2 separate regions of the Homo sapiens genome follow, and region 1 is linked to region 2. Evidence: fine-mapped expression QTL. A gene starts in region 2. The other region holds a variant in brackets. All regions are shown on one strand. Distances are between the middles of the regions. Region 1 has its middle 31 kb from the start of CACNG6. Region 2 holds the start of CACNG6 (calcium voltage-gated channel auxiliary subunit gamma 6).

Region 1 (2,899 bases), 31 kb after region 2:
TTATCACAACTTGCAAAGTTCTGCATGATCCGGGCTTAGCACCTCCCTTCTCCTGCTGTGCTCTAGCCGGCTCACTTTGCCTCAGCCACGCTGGCCTGTGTCCATTCTTGGAACTAGTACTGGCCAGGCTTGCTCCTGCCCCAGGGCCTTTGCCTGCGCTGTGCCTTCTGCCTGAAGTGTCATTCTCTTTGCATTTCTCATGGCTGGATACTTACACTGTTTTTAATTCTCAGCTTCAACATATTTTCATCCAAGTCTTCCCTTACCCACTTTGCAAAGGAAAGACCCACCTCCCATACACTCATTGTGTTATAGTGCATCCCTCTTGATTTCTAGCATGTCTCTTGTTACAATCTACAGTTTGTTGTTTTTTTCTTTCAGATGGAGTCTTGCTCTGTCGCCCAGGCTGGAGTGCAGTGGTGTGACCTCAACTCACTGCAACCTCTGCCTCCCGGGTTCAAGTGATTCTCGTGCCTCAGCCTCCCAAGTAGCTGGGACTACACGCGTCCACCACCACGCCCAGCTAATTTTTGTATTTTTAGTGGAGATGGGGTTTCACCATGTTGGTCAGGCTGGTCTGGAAGTCCTGACCTCATGATCCGCCAGCCTCGGTCTCCCAAAGTGCTGGGATTGCAGGCATGAGCCGCCGCACCCAGCCAACAGTAACAGTCTTTTCAAAATGCCTGGTCCATAGTACGTGCTCGACAAATATTTGTGAAATCACTGGATACATAAGACAGTTCCAGGGAAGGGGAGTAGCTTGCTCAGAACAGGGAAGCTGCCCAGGAGTCTTTCCCCTGATTCTCAGACCACGATCCCGTGCTCAGCTCCTCGCGGATTCAAGGCTGATGAAGGCAAGGGCCACACTGTCACCCACTCTTTGAAAGCCCCAAACCAGAAGTCATTCCGGGGTGGCTGTTCAAGGTTCTTCACTGATCAGGTCTCTTGGTAACAAGTGTTGGCCTCCCACAGGTACATGTCAGCATCTCCTTCCTTTCAGAGGCTGAATGCTTGTCCATTTATGTAGATCCCACACTTTCTTTACACATTCATTCATTGATGGCACTTACATTGCTTCCATTTCTTGGTTTTTGTGAATAATGCTGTTAAGAACATCAACGTATAAATTATCTCTTCCGGCCGAGCGTGGTGGCTCACGCCTGTAATCCCAGTACTTCGGGAGGCCAAGGAGGGTGGATCACTTGGGCCCAGGAGTTCAAGACTAGCCTAGGCAACATGGTGAAACCCTGTCTCTACAAAAGTAAAATAAAATAAAATTAAAATTAAAAGTAGCTGGGCTTGGTGGTGCATGCCTGTAGTCCCAACTATTCAGGAGGCTGAAGTGAGAAGGTCGCTCGAGCCCAGGAGGTCGAGGCTGCAATAAGTAAGCCAAGATCACACTACTGTATTACTCACCAGGCAACAGAGAGAGAGACCCTGTCTCAAAAATAAATACACAGATAGGCTGGGGGCAGTGACTCATGCCTGTAATCCT[T/C]GGCTTGGGAAGCCGAGGAGGGTGGATCACCTGAGGTCAGGAGTTCAAGACCACCCGGGTCAACATGGCAAAACCCCATCTCTACTAAAAATACAAAAATTAGCTGGGCATGGTGTTAGGTGCCTGTAGTCCCAGCTACTCGGGAGACTGAGGCAGCAGAATCACTTAAACCCAGGAGGCAGAGGTTGCAGTGAGCTGAGATCGCACCACTGCATTCCAGCCTGGCTGACAGAGTGAGACTCCGTCTCAAAAAATACATACATACATACATACATATCTCTTCAAGATCCTGCTTGGAATTCTTTTGGGTATCTCCCCAGAAATGGAATTGCTGGATCCCATGGTAATTCTATTTTATGAGTTAGAACTTGATGGCCTGAATTTTTGTGGTGTCAGCTGCAGACTCACAGTGAGGGAAGCCCAGGAGGGGATGGGCTTTAAGAGGATGATGCTGCAACAGAGGGGCTTTAGTTAACACGGATGTGCTGTGTTCTTGAGCCTTCCTAAGAGAGTAGATTGTAAGTGTTCTTACCACACACACAAAAATGATAAATGTGAGGCAATGCACATGTAAATTAGCTCAATTTAGCCTTTTCACAACGTATACTATTTCAGCACATCATGTTGTACACCATAAGTACATACAATTTTTATTTGCCCTAAAAAATAAATCAGTAATGCTTAAAAAAATTAAATTTCATATTGTAGGGGGGGAAACAGTGCATGATGTTGCAATGTACTGCGTTTCATTTCCTGAAGCGTCAGCGAAAGACCAGCCCTGGGGTAGAAGACCGGAGCGGAGGGAGCGTGGCCTCCCCAGCTCCCCACTTCCTTCTCAAGCTGCAGGCTGAACTAGGGTCTCTGGAACTGGGCTAAGGCGCCCCCGTGTCTGCAGCCTCTCTGCGGGGCTTCATGGACTCCAGCAAAAGGCTTGAGGCTGGAAACGAGGGTATGAGCGTGCGGAGAGGTAGGGTGAGGTTGGGTTTCTGCAAGGAAATAATAATCACCGTGCTTAACTGATGTACTAGGCACCAGGCTGAAGGCCCCATCAGCTGGCGAGGCTGGGAGAGAAATTGACATCCCCTCTTGCTGCCCCGCCGTTGGCTGGAAACAGTCATGAGCCGCCACCTAGCGGCGAAAATGACAGCAACAACTTGGACCTAGAGCTGGGGCCACGGAACGAAAGGCGTCATCCCTTTAAATTAGGACAATTGCCCTCTCTCAGGGCAGCTTCTCTGTTCTGGTTACCTGCTGACTTACACCCAGTCACCCCAAACTTCGTGGCAAAAAACAACTGCTATTTATCCATCCATCCTTCCTTCCTTCCTTCCTTCCTTCTTTCCTTCCTTCCTTCCTTCCTTCCTTCCTTTTATGAGGCAGAGTCTCGCTCTGTCGTCCAGGCTG
Region 2 (2,899 bases):
AAGACCCAGGGTTCTGGCCCCAGTCTCCTCCCTGAGGCCCAGGACTCTGGGTCTGCCAACGCCTTGACCAGGAGTCCAGGCTCCCCGGCCCTCCTCCTCCCTCAGACCCAGGAGTCCAGGCCCAGCCCCTCCTCCCTCAGATCCAGGAGTCCAGGCCCCCTGCCCCCTCCTCCCTCAGACCCAGGAGTCCAGGCCCAGGCCTTCCTCCCTCAGACCCAGGAGCCCAGGCCCCCAGCCCCTCCTCCCTCAGACCCAGGAGCCCAGGCCCCCAGCCCCTCCTCCCTCAGACCCAGGAGCCCAGGCCCCCAGCCCCTCCTCCCTCAGACCCAGGAGTCCAGGCCCCCAGCCCCTCCTCCTTCAGACCCAGGAGTTCAGGCCCCAGTCCCTCCTCCCTCAGACCCAGAAGTCCAGGCCCCCAGCCCCTCCTCCCTCAGACTCAGGAGCCCAGGCCCCCAGCCCCTCCTCCCTCAGACCCAGGAGTCCAGGCCCCAGCCCCTCCTCCCTCAGACCCAGGAGTCCAGACCCCCAGCCCCTCCTCCCTCAGACCCAGGAGCCCAGGCCCCCAACCCCTCCTCCCTCAGACCCAGGAGTCCAGGCCCCCAGCCCCTCCTCCCTCAGACCCAGGAGTCCAGGCCCCCAGCCCCTCCTCCTTCAGACCCAGGAGTTCAGGCCCCAGTCCCTCCTCCCTCAGACCCAGAAGTCCAGGCCCCAGTCCCTCCTCCCTCAGACTCAGGAGCCCAGGCCCAGCCCCTCCTCCCTCAGACCCAGGAGTCCAGACCCCAGCCCCTCCTCCCTCAGACCCAGGAGTTCAGGCCCCCAGCCCCTCCTCCCTCAGACTCAGGAGCCCAGGACCTAGGAGACCAGGTTCCTCTCCTCTCAGATCCAAGATTCTGGGTACCCAGGCCTTCTTCCTCTACCACTCAGAAGTGGGGTACCGAGGCTTCTTCTCCCTTAGGGACCCAAGACTCCTGGCCTCAGGCCCTCCTCCCTGAGACCCGGGGCCCTGCCTCCCGCCCCTCCTCCCTGGTAACCCCAGTCAGACTTGCTGCCCCGCCCGTCTCCTGCTGCCCGGGAGACTGCGGAGCTGGGACTCTCGGCGCCGCTCTTGCCCCTTAGTGAAATGAAAGTCCCATCAGGCTCGGCCCCTTCCTCCCCGGGCGGCCTCCCTCCCCCCTTCCTCGTCCCCTTAAAACACCCGGGATCCCTATGGCAACAGGCGCCGGGCGACAGGTGCGGGTGTTATTTACGGGTCAAGCCCGAAATAGCCCCGAGGGTGGAGGGTGGAGGGTGGGGGGTGGGCGGGTGGGGACGAGGCCGGGCGCGGGCGGAGGCCAGGCCGGTGGCGGTGGCGGGCACAGCCGGACGCTTCGGAGGCAGCGCGGAGCTGGGGTCGGCGCGGGGCCGAGGCAGGAGAGCGAGAGGGGCCCCTGCTCGGGAGTCGGGGGTGGGAGCCCCGAGGGGGGGCCCTGGCCTGGGGCTGAGCCTGGCGCGAACCCGACCGGGAAGGCCCTGGGAGCCCGGGGGAGGGAGACGGACTGATCCCGAAGGGGCGCAGCGTCTCTTGCGGGTCGCGGTTGGCCTTTGAACCCTGGGGGGACTCAGTCCTGGTTTTCCGAGCCGCAGTGCGGACCACAGCCCCATAGTGTGAGCCCCAGGAGGGCCCCCGGTCCCATCTGCCCCAGCCCTCGGGGAGGCCCCGTAGCCTCCCGCCTCTGGACTCCACTCTGTCTTCCGGCCACCGGCCCCTTTTCCAGGCTCAGTAGAGACCTCGGATCTTTTCTGAATGGCAGGGGAGACCCCTATCCCCTTTTCCTGAATTCCAGCGAGGCCCAGTCCTCTTCTGAGCCCCAGCCAGGGCTCTGTTCTTCTCCTTCTGTGGATGCCGGGGTCCTACTGCCTCTCTTGAGACCCGGATTGAATTCCGACCTCCCCTTGGGAGCTTCCCGGGACCCCAGGTCTTCCTTTTCCGAATCCCAGAGGGTCCCCAAGTCCTCTGTTCTCAAACTCTGAGCCCAAGGGAACCCCGGCCACATCTCCTCCAAACACACACAGGACCTCAGGTCCCTTCCTGGGTACCCCAAACTCTTAGCCCTAGTGGGGTGCTCAGATCTCTCAGGAAAACCAGTTTCCCTTTTGTTAACCCCCCAGCGGGGACCCCAAAGCAGCCCCTTGGAGCTGCAGGGAGCTTCAGCGGGCACCAGTTCTCATTCCTCTGGAGCTCTTGGGGGGACTCCCTCCTGGGAAGCCGAATTCTATCTCTAAACCTCAGGGTGGGGGCCTTGTTTTTCCTCTGGGCCCCGTCTTCTTTGCCAAGTTCTTGAGGGCAACCTAGACCCTCCTCTGAACCCCAGAGGCTTCCCCAGCCCTGGGGATCATTTTTCTCTTCTGAACCCCAGAAGCAATCTCGACTTTCGCATTTGAGATTCCAGACAGGACTCGGCTCTCCCTCTTTCATACCCAGGGGAAACTGAGTCCCTCACCCCCTTCAAGACCCCAGGCCGCTCCTCGCTCCCGCCCCTCGAGGCCCTTCGCCGGCTCTGCCTCCTCCCCCTTCCCGACCCCACCGGCCATAAGATGATGTGGTCCAACTTCTTCCTGCAAGAGGAGAACCGGCGGCGGGGGGCCGCGGGCCGGCGGCGGGCGCACGGGCAGGGCAGGTCGGGGCTGACGCCCGAGCGCGAGGGGAAGGTGAAGCTGGCGCTGCTGCTGGCCGCCGTGGGCGCCACGCTGGCGGTGCTGTCCGTGGGCACCGAGTTCTGGGTGGAGCTCAACACCTACAAGGCCAACGGCAGCGCCGTGTGCGAAGCGGCCCACCTGGGGCTGTGGAAGGCGTGCACCAAGCGGCTGTGGCAGGCGGACGTGCCCGTGGACAGGGACACCTGCGGCCCCGCGGAGCTGC

Evidence for each region.
Region 1: its variant is fine-mapped to the expression of CACNG6 in whole blood (TOPMed, PIP 0.96).

Annotation. Positions count from the first base shown.
Region 1 is chr19:54,021,457-54,024,355 of GRCh38, forward strand. No RefSeq gene overlaps it. Among named protein-coding and RNA genes, the nearest start is that of CACNG6, 31 kb to the left of the region's middle. RefSeq lists a silencer at 1,333-1,536. The variant T/C (reference allele first, on the strand shown) is at 1,496.
Region 2 is chr19:53,990,304-53,993,202 of GRCh38, forward strand. It overlaps CACNG6 (calcium voltage-gated channel auxiliary subunit gamma 6), which reads left to right and starts at 1,334. Exons shown (of 4, transcript NM_145814.2): 1 at 1,334-2,899. The coding sequence starts at 2,575.